2 separate regions of the Homo sapiens genome follow, and region 1 is linked to region 2. The links come from fine-mapping of genetic effects on gene expression. A gene starts in region 2. The other region holds a variant in brackets. All regions are shown on one strand. Distances are from middle to middle. Region 1 overlaps LOC105375416 (a long non-coding RNA gene). Region 2 holds the start of SDHAF3 (succinate dehydrogenase complex assembly factor 3).

The links. PIP is the estimated chance that this variant, and not a neighbour inherited with it, causes the effect. A credible set is the group of variants that fine-mapping cannot tell apart.
Region 1: its variant is the best candidate, but not a certain one, in a credible set for the expression of SDHAF3 in memory regulatory T cells (Schmiedel 2018, PIP 0.55).

Annotation. Positions count from the first base shown.
Region 1 is chr7:97,460,248-97,465,630 of GRCh38, reverse strand. All of the region lies in intron 2 of LOC105375416 (a long non-coding RNA gene), which reads left to right. Among named protein-coding and RNA genes, the nearest start is that of TAC1, 270 kb to the left of the region's middle. The variant C/T (reference allele first, on the strand shown) is at 2,721.
Region 2 is chr7:97,114,699-97,120,081 of GRCh38, reverse strand. It overlaps SDHAF3 (succinate dehydrogenase complex assembly factor 3), which reads right to left and starts at 2,384. Exons shown (of 2, transcript NM_020186.3): 1 at 2,185-2,384. The coding sequence starts at 2,358. RefSeq lists enhancers at 2,207-2,296, 2,647-2,726.

The DNA of each region.
Region 1 (5,383 bases), 350 kb before region 2:
TCTAATCAAAGAAACAGTGATTTAAGTGTTACTTGGCATCGTATCATAGTTTTAAGCTAGAAGCAACCCACAGAGATTAACTTTCCTTATAAGCCCAAAGGGATGAGTTGCAGGATCCCAGGCCACAGCGCTGGTGACAACTTAGGACTTAACCCTCCACGTCTTTCCTCCAAGTCTTATGTTCTTTCTATGATGCCATACAATTCTTTCTTCAGTCATTTGAGACATACTGTTTTATTAAAATGAGTTCTAACCCAGAAATTAAAGGCTAATTTTTTACCACATTTCTCTGGAATCTTTCTGTAAATTTCTTTTAAACACCATTCCAAAATCATCGTTGTTCTTGTGTGTTTACTCCACACCCCTCAATTCAAAATAGCTAACATTTACTGAATGCTGACAATGGGGCAGGAAGCCCTGTTCTAAGGGCTTACACATACTAAATCATTTTAATATCACAAAAGCCAACGCCACAGGCACTGTTATCATCTGTCTTATAAATAAAGCAGGTTTGACAGACTCTAGTAATCTGACCAAAAGCCCATGCTCTGAACACTATATCCATACTGCCTCTTACATGAAACTATAGCATGTACTCGTCAGGAGCTACACAGAACTGCGTGGGTAATCGCACCCACTGGGTGGCTGCAGACTAAGCCCTTACTCTTTCTCAAGGGTCTTTAAAACTGTTGCTTTGAGCCTGTCACTTCCTTTCTTACACATGGAAGCTCAAAGTATCTCAAAGCACAGTTGCTGATGACCACCAGATTAGAACTGTCTCACCTTAAAGAGGAAATCTCTTTGCCTATTGATTCAAGGTGGCATGAATATGCTCAGGTGTCCTCCAAACACCTGTGCTGCTATAAGTTGTATCAATAGCACAGTAGGATTATTCTCCATCTGATTATTCTCCATCAGTGGCCTTTGTGTGAGAGCTTCATTGTAAGCAGTGCAAAGCTATGATATTCAATAATCTGGAGAATATCCTTCTCTATCAGTCCCTGTACTGAACTCTCAGGAAAATTTACCTGCTTCACAATTATTTCTGTCCAGATTGTCTAGAGTCAAATGAATGCTCTGGGCATTTAAGATACATTGAATTTCTCCAAAGAATTCTGCCATTACTTAAACTGATGCCATGCCTGAATATTAGGAAGGTGCTCTTTGGTTGTTTTTGACTATGCTATACAGTCTTAGGGGAGGGCCTCGGAGCAGTAATAGGAGATAGCTGTGGCGATATGTGCTCAGGAAAGTCATTGAGAGTCCTTGTAACTAAAGGTGATCTGTAGGGTAGGAGAAACAGCAGAAGTGTAAGTAAGTGACAGAGGCAGGCTACAGACCTTCCAATGGACATGATAAAACTGGAAGGCTGTCGGGCGTGGTGGCTCACGCCTGTAATCCCAACATTTTGGGAGGCCAAGGCAGGTGGGTCACCTGAGGTCAGGAGTTCGAAACTAGCCCGGCCAACATGGCGAAGCCGCATCTCTACTAAAAATACAAAAAAATTAGCCAGGCCTGATGGTGGACACCCGTAACCCCAGCTACTTGAGAGGCTGAGGCAGGAGAATTGCTTGAACCCGGGAGACAGAGGCTGCAGTGAGCTGAGATCATGCCACTGCACTCCAGCTTTGGGGGACAGAGTGAGACTCCATCTCAAATAAATAAATAAATAAAATACAAAAAGCAGCCGGGCATGGTGGCACATGTCTCTAGTCCCAGCTACTTGGGAGGCTGAGATGGAAGAATCGCTTGAACCCGGGAGGCAGAGGTAGCAGTGAGCCGAGATCACGCCACTGCACTGCAGCCTGGGCGACAGACTGAGACTCTGTCTCAAAAAACAAAACAAAAACAAAAAAGTAGAAGGCCCCTACTACTGAGGGCATGCTGTCAGTGGGACACTAGAGCAGAAACCCCTAAGCTGAGATGATGAGATACAATGTTTTATAGCTTAGGCTCATACAATCTGAGTTGTGAGTTTCACAGAGGTTGATAAAATGTTTTAATTTTCTCCACATCACATCTGTTTAATTCCTAAGTCAAGTACGATTTGTGTGCTTCTTCTAGGCTGAAAATGTGTTTCAAGACCAAGTCAAGTTAATTATCCTGTACCACCCCTATTTCCAGAAAACAAATGTAATCTCACTTGGGTGAATGTTTTGGTCTTAAACCCGCTTGTTGGCATTCTCACCTCATCAGCTCTTTGCAGTAATTCCCATTCAGTCAGTAGACTATTCTTAAATGCTTTTTCTCCCTTCCTCCTCTGACAAACTCAAAATGTCCCAGTTAAAGGAAAATTCAACAACTATAGCTGGTGTGGAAGGGATTGAGGGATATCAAAAAGATGAACCAATTTGAGAGAAGATCGCTTTCTGACAGCAAAGCTTGTAAGGATCGTGATGATGGTTTATATTAGTGATCAGTAGAAGTAGCCCACCCTGGGGAAAGGTTAACAACTATGTTCCTGATTCTATTAACAATACTTCTCAAATTTATTAAGAGATAAACCCTACCTATGCATATTGTGGGTAGGGGATGAATGAATGAATGAATGAATACAGAAAATTGTTTTTCATGGCAGTTAGAATAGGATTCCTCCGTTTTCCTGGAAAAGACCCATCTTTGTTGATTGTTTTTGTAAACCCATTTGATTAGAGGCTGAGGCCTCAGGGTCGGTAGGATGTGCTGGTTCTCATACTAAGACAGTTTAGCTGAGCTCACTG[C/T]ATATGAAAGAAAACAGATTAAAAGTTGTACTGAGGCGGGGAGCAGTAGCTCACGCTTGTAATCCTAGCACTTTGGGAGGCCGAGGCAGGCAGATCACAAGATCAAGAGATCAAAAACATCCTGGCCAACATGGTGAAACCCTGTCTCTACTAAAAATACAAAAATTAGCTGGGTGTGGTGGCATGCACCTGTGGTCTCAGCTACTCAGGAGGCTGAGGCAGGAGAATCACTTGAACCCAGGAGGCAGAGGTTGCAGTGAGCCGAGATCACGCCACTGTACTCAAGCCTGGTGACAGAGCGAGACTCCATCTCAAGAAAAAAAAAAAAAAAAAAAAAAGTTGTACTGAGAGGAGTAGATCCCGTGAGAGGGAGCAGTGGTGAAAGACGGGAGAGAAGTGAAAGTCCAAAGGAAGTGCAGAGAGAAATAATTGAAACTGCCTTTGTAAAAGTTATGACAGAGAGAGAAAACTAATGTAGCTGACTCCATCTTGCTTCTAACCTCACAAACTATCTTTGCTCATTCCTGGGTGTAGGTGAAACTAAGTATGAGAGCCGTTTACTTTACAGTTTGACTTTAAAATAAAGATGATAATAGTTCCTTCCTCCAACTAACCCCCTACTTGTTCAGGGACTGAAATCGCCTTTGTAAAACTAATAAAAGGCCACAAGGTTAGAATTATGGTAAAGACCTGAATTCTGCTAAGACCTATGCATAGTTAAATGATAACTAGTTATTGTCTCCTAAATTGCTTGATGCTCAGGAGTCACAAGATTTGTAAGTTCTCTAATTGGTCCTATAGACAACACTATTTTAAAATGTCAGACTGGTGTTGGAAATATTTTTTTCAGACTTTGCATTGTGGTGGAACAACTGACACCACCTGAACCAATGACCCCCACCTAGGAACTGACTCAGCACACAAAGACAATTTCAATACTCCTATGATTTCATTCCCAACCAATCAGCAGCACCATTCTCTAGCTCCTTACCCACCAAATTATCTTTAAAAACCCTAGCCTCCAAATTCTTAGGGAGGTTGATTTGAGACATATCTCTCATCCTTCTGCTCAATTGCCTTACCATAAACTCTTTCTCTGCTGCAACACTTCTGTCTCACTGTGTTGGCCTTATTTGTGCAGTGGGTGACAAGAATCCAGTGGGTTATAACAGAAGTGGGCAAAGAGAGGTGTCTATTGGGGATTCTACAATTACTTTTTTAAGAAAAATTTTCAACTATATACTAGACAATAGCTTAATGTACCCCCATGTAACTATCACCTGGCTTCAACAATTATCAATTACATGGCCAATCTAAACTCTAACTTATTCCCCTCACCTCCCTTACTTTTTTTTTTTCCAGACAGAGTCTCACTCCGTTGCTCAGGCTGGAGTGCAGTGGCGCAATCTCAGCTCACTGCAAGCTCCACTTCCCGGGTTCACGCCATTCTCCTGCCTCAGCCTCAGAGTAGCTGGGACTACAGTTGCCTGCCACCATGCCCGGCCAAATTTTTTGTATTTTTAGTAGAGACGGGGTTTCACTGTGTTAGCCAGGATGGTCTTGATCTCCTGACCTTGTGATCCACCCACCTCAGCCTCCCAAAGTGCTGGGATTATAGCGGTGAGCCACTGCGCCTGGCCACCTCCCTTACTTTTTAAAGCAAACCTCGAGCATCACATTTTACCTAGATAAAGTTGTGTGTCTTTCTGAACCATAAGACTTTTTTATGACAAAACTCCAATACCATCAACAAAAAAACCCTGGCAATTCCTAGGTATCATCAAATATCAGTGTTCCAATTGCCTCATGAGTGTAAGAAAACATTTTATTTTGCAACATAAAGAAAAGTACATAAACCATAGGTTTACAGTGTAATGTGTGATACGGTTTGGATCTGTGTTCCCAATCAAATCTCATGTTCAATTGTAGTCCCCAGTGTTGAGGGTGGGCCTGGTGGGAGTGTAACCGCCCAGTGGGTTCACCTTGCCTGCTGCCTAGACAAAGCTGATTTATCAAGACAGGGGAATTGTAATAGAGAAAGAGTAATTCACACAGAGCAGGCTGTGCAGGAGACCGATGTTTTATTATTACTGAAATCAGTCTCCCTGAGCATCCAGAGATCAGAGTTTTTAAGGACAATTTGGTGGGTTGGGGGAAGCCGTGAGCCAGGAGTACTGATTGGTTAGGTAGCAGATGAAATCATGGAAAGTCAAAGCTGTCCTCTTGTGCTGAGTCAGTTCCTGGGTGGGGTCACAAGATCAGATGAGCCAGTTTTTTCCATCTGAGTGGTGCCAGCTGATCCATCAAGCTCAGGATCTGCAAAATATCTCAAGCACTGATCTTAGAAGCAGTTTAGGGAGGATCAGAATCTTGTAGCCTTCAGCCACATGACTCCTAAACCATAATTTCTAATCTTTGGCTAACTTGTTAGTCCTACAAAGGCAGTCTAGTCCCCAGACAAGAAGGAGGTTTGTTTTGGGAAAGGGCTTATGTTAGTCTATTTTCACACTGCTAATAAAGACATAACCAAGACTGGGTAATTTATAAAGATAGAGGGCTAATGGACTCACAGTTCCACGTGGCTGAGAAGGCCTCACAATCATGGTGGAAGGCAAAAGGTATGTCTTACATAACGGCAAGCAAGACAGAATGAGAGACAATCG
Region 2 (5,383 bases):
TAATCATCTGAAAGCCTGAGAGTACCTACCCCCAAATATGTATTAATTTCAAAAGAGAAAATAGTAAGTTTACAGTAGAGACACCACGTGGATTATTACTTTAACCAAGTGATCACAGTTATCATCACCAGTAAGAAGTCATGTTAGTATCATGTGCCCTCTGACATTAAGTGTTGAGGCGAACACTTTGCCCATGTGGTATTCTTACTGAGATGTTATGAAATGCATAACATCAATTTAACCATGAGAAAACATCAGACAAACTCAAATTGAGATACATTCCACAAAGTAACAGACTAGTACTTTTCAAAAAAGTATCAAGGTAATGAAAGATAGGAAGACGGAGCAACTGTCACAGAATGGAGATTAAGGAAAAAGAATAACTAAATGCATTGTAGAATCCCCATTGGATCCTGGAACAGAATAAGGACATTAGTGAAAGGGCTGGCAAATTGTAAATAAAGTCTGTAGTTAACAGCATTGTAGCAATGTTAATTTCTTGTTTTTGATCACTGTACCCTGATTATGTAAGATGCTAACACAGGGGGAAACAGGATGTAGGGAACTCTCTACTGTCTTTCTAACTCTTCTGTATGTCTAAAATTATTCCAAGTTTTAAAAAGCTCAATCCCAGTTACCAAGCCTACTAGGTCAACTAACACATTTTTTATTTATGCAGTTCTTTTTTATACCCTCTCTCTCTCCTACAACCTATTATCAATTTTTTCTGAGTTGCTACTCTTTCCTACTTTTTCCCAAAGAGGCTTCCATGTGCTTACATTTTAAGACTTCTTAAAATAACCTTATTTCCTCCCAACAGAGAGCTACTCTCCTTCCTGTACGGCCACAAAATGACCTACCATAAAAGATGTAAAATACTTTAATACAGTATCTTATAGCTTCATAACAATTAGCAATACACAAGTGCTTGTAAATACATTTACATACGTAAATTTTGAGATGCATAAACACTTATTATTTTATAGATGAGAAAATAAGACTAGAAAAATTATGTGATCTGACACTTAAAATGTCAGAGACTGAATCTGAATCCAGTTCTTCAGGCTCCAAAACCAAATTACCTTATTAAAATAAAGTGCTCTGTGTCTGAAAAGCTTCAACTTCCCTGCTTCAGGCAAGCGAATTACATCAAATACACCATGATTTTCAAGAAAGTTCTAAATTTCCCGATTGTTCTAAATGTCGCTCTTAAAAGCTTCAATAATTATACAAAAAAGAATTCTGGAAGTCAGTGCAAAGTTTGTGTTCACCCTAACCATTCTTTTGATTTTTTTTTACAAAGCCGACTTCAGTCATCTCCCCTTCAACTATTTAGGCCGAAGAACCGCTTACCTCTATTTTCATATCAGCTCCAACTCATGCTTTCAAATATCTGAGCTGTCATTCCAATCTCTAATTCCATTCATTTATTTATATTTGCAAATGAAAACTAGGGGCAATCCTGCAGGGCCCCGAGCCCCACGAAATACTCTGAATATCTTTTTTCCTTTACTCAAAAAAAAAAAAAAAAAGTCAAACGACTTATTGCTAATGCATGTGTCTGTTTAATATTTAGCGCAATGGTGCAGGGCGAAGTAACAATGACTTGAGACCGGAGGAAACAACTTTCGCCTGACTTAACTGCCACCAGCATTTTTCTCCTTCACAGTTTGTAATCTCCAACCTTTTGTAATCTTTTTCATGTTACCTGATTTCTGTATCAGCCAAGTGAGAAAATTATTTAAACCCAACCAAAAGCGCTGAGATTAAATAATAAATTACGGAAATAAGCCTTTAAATTTGAAAACTAATAAGAGAACCATTAATTTATTAATGGGCGCTTACTAGGTGCAAAGGCACTTAAAAGGACAAAAAGCTCCTGAGGTTTTTGAGCACTTAACGACGACTTGCTCATTTTTGTGACCTCCTACCCTCACCCTTTGAGCACCTGGCATCTGCAGGAGCTCAAAAGTTGAACTGAATTGGGGACGCTGAAGTAACAGGATCTGCTCTAGTGAGAAACCCGTGGGAGAAACTTTGGAAAGTGTTACCTGAACAGCATTACGCTATTTCAAACAGAACAGGTTGCTGCTCTGTTTAACCCCGCATGGGGGACTGGAACTAGAAACCTGGACACCGAGGAACCCCAAAGGTCTTGGGCAAAGAGAAGGGAGCGTCACTTGCCTCCCATTCTTGCAAGAAACGCTGTGCCTCGTCAGAACCAACGGTCTTATGTCTCCTAAATTCGTCTTTCACGTACTGGTCGCCCAGGGATTTGAGGTCCGGGGGCAGAACACGGTGCAGCTGCAAGACGCGCTTGTACAATGCCCGGACTCGAGAAACGTGCCGCCCCGGCATAGCGCCCCACGCCGACCGCCGACTGCGCCTGCGCAGAGGGACGGCGCGTTCCCGCACTTCTGCGAACTTGCGTATTAGTGAACCGGAAGGCAGACGAAAGAGGGCGCGCGACCTCTATCCGGTTTGGTCCCTTGCACAATCAGGTCCTCCCGGAAACCCAAGCTCCGCTGCGGGCGGAAAACGGGTCGGTCCTTCTCTAGGAGGGGCGTGGCCCTCGTGGAGTCGCGCCTGCGCCTCGTCGTGGCTTCTTCTGGCCTGCGTCCTGACGACACAGGCCTTGAAAGAGAGAGGTCTGTGGTGGGCCGTTGTCATTTCTCAGTCCCACTCCACTGTCTTTTTCATTCAACTTCGTTTCTGTCCTCCTACCAAAGGCCTGAGAAAAGCTTCGTTAAGATCGGGCTCCTCCGGGATTCCTTCCATGGTTCCCAACCCATTTGAGGCATTTAGAGTATTACTGCACCCTGCTTTAGGGATCAGAGTGAGATTAATCTCGCCATCCACTAGCTCACCAACCCACGCTCTTTGCACAGCGCTGTTCTCCCAATTTATACTCTGGGCATGGGCTCTTCCTTGCAAACAACCCAAGTGAGCCCAGAGCTGGCGGACTCCTTAGCCAAAGTCAAGTTGGCTGCTGAAGGATCCTTGGGAAGAGTTTTAAACGTATTGTTTCCAGGACCACGACCCTGGAGATTCTGGTTAAATAGTCTAGGATAATAAGAACGAGGAATCTAGAAATTTACAAAGCTCTATCTTTTGCGAAGGTAATACTGAGAGTAGAACTGGTTTCCAAAGCTGGCAGCTCCTTGTGTTGTCCTTTCCTGTCACACGTTTGGTTCTTCAGCAAATCCTGATGGCGTCACCAACAAAAATGCAGAAATCAACCATTTCGCCCCATGTACTCTACCACAATCTCTCTCCACTGGATATTGTGTTAGCTTCCATATCTGTGTTCAGCTTCTGGTCATGACCAACTTTGGTCATGCTCCAACATAATTTAAATTAAATTTGGCCTAAAATTTCCTCCCTACTCTGAGTTGCTATGTAGGGAACTGCAACCTAACTTAGTATGTAAATTAACTGCAACTGAGAGTATATTCTTGTGACAAGTAGCTGAGCTTCAGCCAATCACAGGCTGCCAACTGATCAGACTATGTGCATATAAGGCAAATACGTCATAATGTCCTGCCCAAATAAGACTAGCCCAACTGTAAGCAATCAAGCTGTTTCTGTGGGGCACTTCCTTTTTCTGTCTATAAATACTGCCTGCCCACAGTGCTGGGTAGAGCTCTCTGAACCTCTCCCTGTTAAGTGCTGCTGCCTGATGAATGCCTCATAAATCGTGTGTGTGTGTGCACGTGCGCTCGTGCAAATAAACTTTATTAGATTTAACTTGTTTAAAGTTTTTCTTTTAACAATCTAAACTGTAAATCGGATCATTTCACTCCTCTGCTCAACAAAAGCCTCCAGGGATTTTCATCAGAGTAAAGCCCAGTCTCTAGCCCTTAAAGGTTTAAATTTTCTCCTATTGCTTTCTCCCTAGTTAGCCAGTTGCAGCCACACTGGCCTCCTAGCTCTTAGTTCATATTTTAAAAAGCCAGGTACACTCCCAACTGAGGCCTTGGCACTTGCTGTCCCGTCTACTTGGAGTGCTTTGCCAAATGTATCTTCCTGGCTAACACTTTTATTTCACTCAGCGCATACTTCAGGTCCCCTTCTAATGAGACCCTCCCTGGCAACCCTATTTGAAACCCTGCTTGAAGTTGCAACCTCACCAAACCAAGAATTTCTTATGCTCCTCCTCTGCTTTGTTTCTCTCTATATTACTTACATAATTTACTCATGTGCTTATTCTCCATTTATTATCCCCCAACTAGAGTACAAATTCTATAGGGGCAGGGATTTTGTGATTTGTTAGTGACCTGCACTAGGTCTGTAGTAAGCACTCAATAAATATCTGTTGAATTAATGTGTGAAACTCACTAACGGTGTCAGATGCCTCATATTCCTGCTGGTGAAGAAGAGGCAGAAATGTTGAAATTTGTGTGATTGTCTCACAGACCCCAGACTTCTTTCTGTGCAAAAACTTTCTGAAAGAAAAACAAGACACACTCAGCTACTGAAGGCAGGTACTTACTCATTTTAGTATCCTTTTCAGGGCCCACCACAGTGCCATACAAATAGTAAGTAGAATTTATTGCTTTGAATAGAGCTTCTCCTTTTGCTTAAATTTAGGGAAAATATGTGTTTTAAAAAACACAGAACTTTTTAAAAATGGATTTAATTTGGTATTATGACAAACTGCATTAATGGCAAGGATTGAATGGCAGCGTGGTTATTTTGCTTCAGGAAATTTTTTTCTAACCATACTTCATCTGTTAATATCCCTGTAAAATTGAAAATTGATTTCTTGTCCCCGTTTGTTTTTTTCTGGTTTCCTTTGGAGTTAAAGAACATGTGTAATAAATACCTCTTTCAAGAGCCAACACTCTTATAAAAATGTGAGAAAACATTCTGCCAATGAATTAATTAAAAAATAAAGGAATTAATTGAGCCTAAAGAGAGTAGAAAGGGTCCACAAAGCATTGGAGAATCAATGCTCAAAATGGCAGACGATGGGTGAAAGAGAAGCCAAGACATAGTGGTGTGGTTAGGCCTTGAGAAGTGGAATAAAGCAATAACAGTGAGAATAATGACAGTTAACCTTTATTTTATTTTTTTTACAACAAGCTGGACAGTGAGCTATGTTTTGAGGACAAAACTTTTCTCTGTTTCCCTGACCAATTTAGGCTGATCAGTGTTCCTCTTGTGGTAAAAATAGCCATGAACTGAAAATAAAATCACACTTATATTTCTGGCCACCAATCTAGATCACTACACTTCATGCAGACCTTTCCTTTATCCTTCCTTCATGTGTTTCTTTTTCTTATATGTTACTCTGCAAGTGATTTAACCGCTCTGTGCCCAGATTTTCTCACTTGTAAATGAGCTGGGTTAGGTAATTTGCAGTACTTTCCAACTTTACTAA